2 separate regions of the Homo sapiens genome follow, and region 2 is linked to region 1. The links come from fine-mapping of genetic effects on gene expression. Tissue or cell type: pancreas. Region 1 holds a variant in brackets; the other region holds the start of a gene. All regions are shown on one strand. Distances are between the middles of the regions.

Evidence for each region. PIP is the estimated chance that this variant, and not a neighbour inherited with it, causes the effect.
Region 2: NUDT18 starts here. The variant in region 1 is fine-mapped to the expression of NUDT18 in pancreas (GTEx, PIP 0.99).

What each region holds. Positions count from the first base shown.
Region 1 is chr8:22,080,309-22,084,464 of GRCh38, forward strand. DMTN (dematin actin binding protein) reads left to right here. Exons shown (of 16, transcript NM_001387751.1): 12 at 104-152; 13 at 310-317; 14 at 497-562; 15 at 805-885; 16 at 1,042-2,217. The coding sequence ends at 1,155. Among named protein-coding and RNA genes, the nearest start is that of FHIP2B, 6.8 kb to the right of the region's middle. The variant G/A (reference allele first, on the strand shown) is at 1,887.
Region 2 is chr8:22,107,563-22,111,718 of GRCh38, forward strand. It overlaps NUDT18 (nudix hydrolase 18), which reads right to left and starts at 1,857. Exons shown (of 3, transcript NM_024815.4): 1 at 1,577-1,857; 2 at 571-784; 3 at 1-333. The coding sequence starts at 1,738. RefSeq lists an enhancer at 198-971 and a silencer at 1,431-2,210.

The sequences.
Region 1 (4,156 bases):
CTGAGCCACTTGGGCACCCTCAGGGAGCGGGGAGACCCCCAAAGTGAAGGGGACCAAAGGTGAATATCCCCGACTGCCTCTGATTCCTTTGTGTCCTTTCTAGCTACAGTCCACAGAGTTCAGCCCATCAGGGAGTGAGACTGGAAGCCCAGGTGAGAAGTGGGGCCTGGTGCCGGGGTCTGGAGAAGGGGCTTACACAGGTCCCTGGGCAGCCGGGGTCTGGGCTGTGGGCAGGGGTCTGGTGAGGTCAGGCGTGTTGGCCTGCTGACCTCAGAGCTGCATCTGACCCATGCCCCTTCTCTCCCGCAGGCCTGCAGGTGAGTGCCTCCTGGAGGGGAACAGGCAGAGCAGCAGAAGCTGGGTCCTGGCACCCGAAAGTGTCAGGGGAAGGGGGGTGTGGGGCCACAGAGTTGCCTGGTGAAGAAGAAGAAGCCGGGGTAAGGCTGGGAAGGTCTCCCTGCCCCGCTCTGGCTCACTGCGGCTTTGGTCTCCCCAGAACGGAGAGGGCCAGAGGGGGAGGATGGACCGGGGGAACTCCCTGCCCTGTGTGCTGGAGCAGAAGGTGAGGGGCAGGGGACACAAGCGCCTGTAGCGGGGCGGGAGGCTGGGGAGATGCCAGGCAAGTGGAATGTGCTGCGGGGTCTTCCTGGTGTTGAAGATGGGAGGGATGGCAGGGAAGTTGGGGGAGACAGAGGGCAAGATGGCATGAACCCCAGTGGCCTCTGCAGGTTGATGTGGGAGGCCTAGGGAGTCGAAGGACAGGATATTCTGTGAGCCTAAGATTGCCCCTCCCCCCACCCCCAGATCTATCCCTATGAAATGCTAGTGGTGACCAACAAGGGGCGAACCAAGCTGCCACCGGGGGTGGATCGGATGCGGCTTGAGGTAGGCAAGGAAGATGCCCTGGATGGGTGCGGGGCTGTCCACGGGCACTCTCCTGCCTGGGGGAAGATCTGGGGCCTCTATGAGTGAGTGTCCCCTAGGTCACTGGGCACAGCCCCCTCCCCCTCCATGCTGAGCTGCCCCGATTCCCCCATGTAGAGGCATCTGTCTGCCGAGGACTTCTCAAGGGTATTTGCCATGTCCCCTGAAGAGTTTGGCAAGCTGGCTCTGTGGAAGCGGAATGAGCTCAAGAAGAAGGCCTCTCTCTTCTGATGGCCCCCACCTGCTCCGGGACGGCCCCCTTACCCCTGCTGCTTCAGGGTTTTTCCCCGGCGGGTTGGGAGGGGCAGGAGGTGGGGTGGAAATAGGGTGGGCTCCTTTCCTCAGGTAGAGTGGGGGGCCAAAACCTCTGCAGTCCCCGGCAGTGAGCTATGGACTTTCTTCCCCCTCACAAGGCTGGGGGCCTCCTGCTCTCGTCCCTGGCCCTCCCTGCACAGGGCAAAGCCAGTCTGGGCTCTGGCACACAGAGTTCATGTTTGCGCCCTCTCCCTGCCCCTCACCCCAGAGGGTGAGGAGGAATGAGGGGCATTGGTGGTTAGGCCGGTTGGCTGTCTTGAACAGCTGGAGGGAAGATGCAGGGGTGGGAAGCGGCCAGGCAGAAAGAGCTCCAGGCTCTTGTGTCGCCCACCCAGCCCTCCCATACTCACTCCTGACAGCTTTCCTGCACTGCAGCCTCCTGCTCCTCTGACTCTAGTGGGAACAGGCCCCAGCTCAGCCTCCGGCAGGGAGGTCACCCCTCCACTTCAGCTTGCCCTGACCTCCGCTCGCAAACCCCGAGCTTCCAAGCCTTTTGCTCCAGCCCTGCGGCTTCCCCAGAAGCCTGGGCTTAGGGTGGAGATGCCGCCTACACACGATCCTGGCCCTCCACCTGCCTCCAGGCCACGAAATGGGAATTCCAGCACTAAGCCAGGCACCGGGCAGAAGCTGGGCCTTCCGCCTCCCTT[G/A]GATGGGGTCAAGAGGCCAGGCCTGGCACATTTTGGAGTGTCCTGGCTACCAGCTCTCACCTACACCCACGCACCCCCCCACACACTATGCTCTCTCAAGAATGTAATTTATTGGGGCCCCCCCAGCTGCTTTCCTCACCTGCCCCTGCCCTACCTTACACCCCCAGCTTGACTTCTTTCCAGTCCACGTGTGTATATAATGATATCTATATTTTTGCCCAGGTCTGGGTATTGCTCCTGCCCAGACCCTGACATCCCTTTCCACTGTGTGTGTGACCATGCTGGGGGAGGGGGACTCTGCTTGGAATTAAAAGGTTGCATTGGGTCCCTACATCTGTCTTTTCCTTATGAGCCACCAGACCTGGGTGAACGAGACAAGCCATATCAGGCAGAGGGAAGCCCTGGGAGCAAGGGTTCCAATGCAGGGGCCGCCTAGGGCTGGAGGGCTGGAGACACAGCCCCGCAGTACTCTTTCCCCCAAGCCTGGGCCACAGAAGCAGGGGCTGTCTAGACAGGGGCCTGTCTGCCTCTCCTTCAGGGACTCTGTGATGGGGGCAGGAACCCTTGTGTTTGGGGCCAGAGGGAACTCACACCTCAGGGAGGAGGCTGGTAGAGAACTGGCTGGGAGGAAAGACTGCCCCAGCCCTCCACCAAATCCCAACGTGCTCGCCTTGGTAGCCAAGCTCAACATCAGACATGGTTGTCCCTCCCAAGGGGCAGGGTGCTCATGGTTCAATGGGGAGGCCGAACACAGAAAAGGTCAGCAGGATGTGAGTGTGTGGTGAGCTGATTGCCAAGAATCAGGCAGGGGAAACTAAGGAATGGAGAAATGGCAGTTGGAGGACGAGTCAAGTGGAGGCCAAGGGAGGAAGATGGGAATTTGGTCTTGGTTGACTTGGTAAGGCCTCCCAAGGGGAAAAGACAGGGAATTGCGTGTTGCGGGTGGGAGGTGGGAGAGGGGCTGCGGATCTGACGGGAAGACCAGAAGGAGGACTGCCTGCAGGTGTGGGTGCTTACGTGGGGAGGGGCCAGCCCCACCTGGCTGGAGCAGAACCATGTGTGGGCACATGAAGAGGCGTGCAGTCAGAGGGACCAGGTGAGTTGGAGGGTGCGCAACTTGTGAACCTGCGACTGGAGCTGGGGCCTAGCCTGAGTACCCTGGTTGAGTTCCTAGCCCCTGTGGCTGAAATAAGCAAAGTGGATAAGAACCCCTCAAATGTGAACGATTATTTTACATTGTAGGAGTTCTGTTGCATCCACAACATCATTTTATCCCTTCAGCAAACCTATGAGGTCAACAGAACAGATCACTGTCATCTTCTTAGCAAATGAGAAAATGGTGGGACAGAGACAATTCCTCTGAAGCCCAGAGCTACAGGAAACCAATGAGTGGAGAGTGGTGACAGGATTCAGGTTTCTAGGACTTTCCCAATAGGTACTGTTGTCTGTGAAGGAGAAGCAGAGGAGGGCAGACTAGGAGGGGCAGAAAGAAATGGGCTCTGCACACATACCCAATACAAGGCATTCAGAAACTGCTGGGGGGCTTAACCCTGCTCTGAGCATGGGGAACACAGCAGTGACCAGGTTGACGTGCCCGTTGTCCAAAAAGAGCTCCCAGGCTGTTCGGGAAAATGTCAAGGTCATTGAACCCTAAGGGGTGCTGGAGACAGGGTTTGGGAACTGTATGTAGTACGGGCAGGTTTGACCCTAGGTCCCAAAGGATTTTCAATTCATGAGAATTTAGAGCATATACATGATGGGATATTACTCAGCCATAAAAAGGAATGAACTAATGGTATTCACAGCAACCTGGATGGCACTGGAGACTATTATTCTAAGTGAAGTAACTCAGGAGTGGAAAACCAAACATCATATGTTCTCACTCATAAGTGGGAGCTAAGCTATGAGGTCGCAAAGGCATAAGAACGTCACAAGGGACCAGGCGCAGTGGCTTAAGCCTGTAATCCCAGCACTTTGGGAGGCCGAGGCGGGAGGATTGCCTAAGCTCAGAAGTTTGAGACCAGCCTGGGCAACATGGCGAAACCCCGTCTCTACTAAACATACACAAAATTAGCTGGGCATGGTGGCACACGCCTGTAATCCGAGCTACTCAGGAGGCTGAGGCATGAGAATCGCTTGAACCTGGGAGGCAGAGGTTGCAGTAGGCCGAGGTCGTGCCACTGCACTCCAGCCTGGGCTACAGAGCAAGACTCTGTCACAAAAAAACAAACAAAAAACCCACGATGGACTCTGGGGACTCAGGGGGAAAG
Region 2 (4,156 bases), 27 kb after region 1:
GCCGCAGGACGGCCATCTTCATGCCACCCCTCTGCTCCATAGGGTCGAGGCCACAGGCAGTGACAGGCAAGTGAGGCATCCCCACTGTGCCCACTAACACCCACACTGTCTGGGCGCTGGTAAAGGTAGCCACGAGCCGCTGGCAGACCAGATCACAGGGTAGCTCTTGGGGCAGAATGAGAGGGTGCCTGGCTTGCTGGCGATACTGGGCGGCTAGTTCAACCAGGTGCAGGATGTCATGGGCTCGCAGCGGAGTGGGCAGGGAGGTCCGTGGGTACCAGGCAGCCTGCAGGGACTCCGCATCGGCCTCCTTGGAAGTCTTGAGAATTCCACCTGGGGGAGATGTGGGGGATGGGGCAGGGAGGGTCTGTGTGGAGAGAAGTGCAGCTCTGGCAGAGTCAACAGACATCCCTGACCCAGGAGAGAGGCCCCCAGCCCAAAGGCTGGAATCTGCCCATGCCAGGCTGTGCCAGCCATAACAGGACTGGCTGTAGAGGGGCTCACCTCACCGAGGAGCTGGGGGAAAGGTGTCAACTGGCCCTGTTCACACTGCCTCCAGGTGGGCCATACCTGTGGGGCGAGCGAGGAACACGAAGCGGACCCAGGAGGGGCCCCGCTCCTCCACGGACAGCAGTGTCTCGGGCTCACAGTGCAGCCCCGCCTCCTCCTTCACCTCCCGCTGCAGCGCCTCCACGATGGTCTCCCCTGGCTCCATTCTCCCCGCAGGCAGGTACCACGACCCCCGGCACTCCCTCTTGGCCTCCTGGATCAGTAGCACCTCATCCTGAGAGGAGAGAGGATCCTCACTTCCTGCCACAGCCTTCCCTCGCCCCGGGACCAGGGGGCATCTCAAACACAGTCGCCCAAGACTCCCCTCTGGGTGGACACTCTCAACCCAGCTAGCGCTCCAGGAGACCTGCCCTCGTGTCGCTGGGGGCTGCAGCCCTCTCCTCTCTGCAATTCGTCTCTCTCTGGATTTAGGAAGACTTCCATTTCAGGAAGGGCTGAGATTCCTGGAAGCCGCTTCAGGGGCTGGAGATGAGGCCCCAGAGTGAGGGTCACCATGTGTCTGTCTGTCTTGGATTGATTTGCGTCTGTACCTGCCACTGTGTATCTCTCGCCTCCAACGGCGTGGTTTACAAACTGTGATGGGTCCTCACACTGGGGTCTGGCTTGAAACACGACCCCCACCTCCGCTCTGTACAACCCCGCCCTATGGCCCTGGCCCCGTCTAGTTGTCATTACATCGCCCACTACAGGCATCAGCACCAAAGGCCTGAAGGTAAGCCGGGATTGAGCCACTGCTATCTGAGGGGCCCTGGGCACTCCGCTAGACTCTGGGGAAGGGAAGGAATGAGGCCTAGTCGGATGAGACAAACAGGCCCCGGGCCTCAGTTTCCTCTTCTGCATATCGGGACGAACGCAGGACACAGATGCGAGTGGGAGTGGGAGTGCTTTGCAAAACTGGGAAGCGCCACGCACGCGGCAGCGCTGGCTGTGGCCGTTGGGTCTTCTGTCCCCACCTGGGCTGGCTGCGCGCTCCCGAGGCCCGGCGGGCCCGGGGGCGGCCGCTCACCTGCTCGCTGAGGAACACGGCCAGCACCACGTAGCACACGTTCTTCCGCAGCCGCACGGGCGCCGGCGGCTCCCCGGCCGGCGCCGAGTCGCAGCTGTGCACGCTGGACCCCTGGCCAGCCAGCACGGAAGCCAGCGCCCCCGCCAGGCCCTCCGAGGCCATCGGGTCCCCCGGGGGGCGGCGGGCCGGATCCTCGCAGACCGACTGAGCCGAGCCGCGGGCTAGAGTGCGCTGCGGAGCCCGCTCCCAGTCCCTGCGGCAGCGGGCCGGGAGCTCACGAGAACGCGGAAGCGCACGCGAACGCGGAAGCGCACGCGAGCTCTGGCCGCTGATAGGCTGCGCGGCGCCGCGGCCTGCCCGGATTGGCCGGCCCGCGGCATTCACCGAGGGGGCGGGGCCGCCCGGGGCCGCCCTGGAACTGGGGGGGCACGGGTCCGGAGCCCAGCGGACCCCGCCCGGCTTCTGCCGCCTGTCAGTCCCGTGCGCTCGGGACGTCTCCCAGCCGCCACCCGCTCGCCAACTCCCCGAGCGCGCACTGGTCTGCAGGAGCTCCGACGGTGACGTCATCTTTCCTGCAGGGCGCGTTGCGCCGCCGGGGTAGGCGACGGTGACGCGACAATCCGGTGACGTCACGGAGGCCCGGGGCCGCCCCCTGGAACCACTGTCCCGCTGTTGCCGTAAACACACAATGGCATTGCCGGAGTTGATCATATCCCAAATACCTTTCTTCTCATTCCACCAAAGAGTTATAAATGTCACATGGCCCGTGGGGTGGGGGACATAAACCCCTGCCTTGAAGGAGATTCTGCAATAGTTGGAGAGATGGACGGAGTCCTAGATGAGGAGTCAGCTGAGGGTTCGAGGCTAAGTGCTAAATGCTTGGTTTGGGCAGGAAGAGTGACAGGCGCTGGAAGGAGGGAGGGGGCAGGGCTGGGGATGGCGGGAGGGGTCCGGGGCTGAGAGAAGGCTGCCGTCAGCCGGCCCACCCTCATCAGTGTCCCTCTGCCTACCGCATTTCCCACGCAGCTCAAGGCCCTCTCTGCTGCAGATGGTGCGCCCTGGGAGGGCGGGGGTGGGGCCCTGCTCCTCCATCCTTGTCGTCACCCTCCCACCCAGCGTGCAGGACCTGGCGCGTGGAGAGCAGGGTGGGGGTGGTTGTGGCGAGCGCCTGCTCCTCTCCCAGCTCGGCCTTTCCTCCTTCACCCCACCTCAGCACTGGAAGGCAAAGCCAGCTGGAAGGGATCTGCGAAGCAGGCCGTCTGGCTCCTCACCTGGCAGAGGCCACCCCTTTCCTCTGCCTCTGATAGTTTTGTGCGCCTCCCTGCTAGGGAGACTGTGGCTTGGTGGTGTGGACAAAGCTCAGGACCTGCAGCCAGATGGCCAGCCACTGCTGACTGGCTTGCTCTGTGCTCCTGGGTGAGCTGTGGGCCTCAATTTTCTTATTTGTAGAGCAGGATCATAGCAATTCTTCTTTTACAGGGGTGTTGGGAAGCCACAACAATTGGAGAGGAGCTGTGTGGATTGTCCAGCACTGGGCACCGTCCCCAGGCAGCCCACCAACCCTCAGGGGTGGTCCCTCTCCACCATAGCTCTTGCTACCACACGCAAGGCCTGCCCTCATGAAATGTGACTTTTGTTATCCCCTAGAGTCAGGGTTTCACTGTGTTGCTCAGATTGGAGGTGCAGTGGCGTGATCACAGCTCCTACTGCAGACTTGATCTCTTGGATTCGAGTCATCCTCCTGCCTCAGACTCCTGAGTAGCTGGGACTGCAGGTGTGCACCACCACGCCTGGCTAAATTTTTAATTTTTAATTCTTTGTAGAAACGAGGGTCTTGCTGTATTGCCCAGGCTGGTCTTGAACTCCTGGCCTCAGTGATCCTCCCACCTTGGCCTTCCAAAGTGCTGTGGTTGCAGGCATGAGCCACCATGCCTGGCGAAATGTGCCTGTAGAGCTGCCTTAGAACTGGACTCAGGAACTTCAGCAACGCAGGATGCATCTCTTTAGGCTCCTCTCACCTGCTGATACTGACCACAGGCTCCCTGGAGGCAGGGCCCTGTGTTAGGCTGTGGGATATCACTAGAAGGCCCATGAATTTTGAGGCACTTGCTGAACGCCGCTGGGCCAGGCCCTATCATGGACCTCTCACCTTCCAAATAACTGCAGGCACAGGACCCCAGGACTGCAGAGCAACTTGTCAACATATTTGCTCTGTGTGTGTGTGTGTGTGTGTGTGTGTGTGTGTGTGTGTGTGTGTCTTGCGGCACACACATGTGTGAATCCCTCAGTTTTCCCACCTGTGAAGTGGGGGAAGTTGGACCCAGACTCCTGTCTGCCTCGCAGGGATGATTTGAGAGAGTGAGATCATGTCTAGGCAGGGATCTGGGAGCTTCAGAGGCAGCCTAAGGTAAACAACAGAAGGCCTCACTGCCCAGAGAGCAAAGACCGCAGCAAACCGTGGCTCCACGCCTCCCATTATCCCGGGGGGTAAAGCCCTCCCCCAAAGCCTCTTGTAAACTGTGAAGGGAGTGCTGAGACAACAAAGAGGCAGGAGTTCCCAAGGCCTTGGGAGAGAACAGC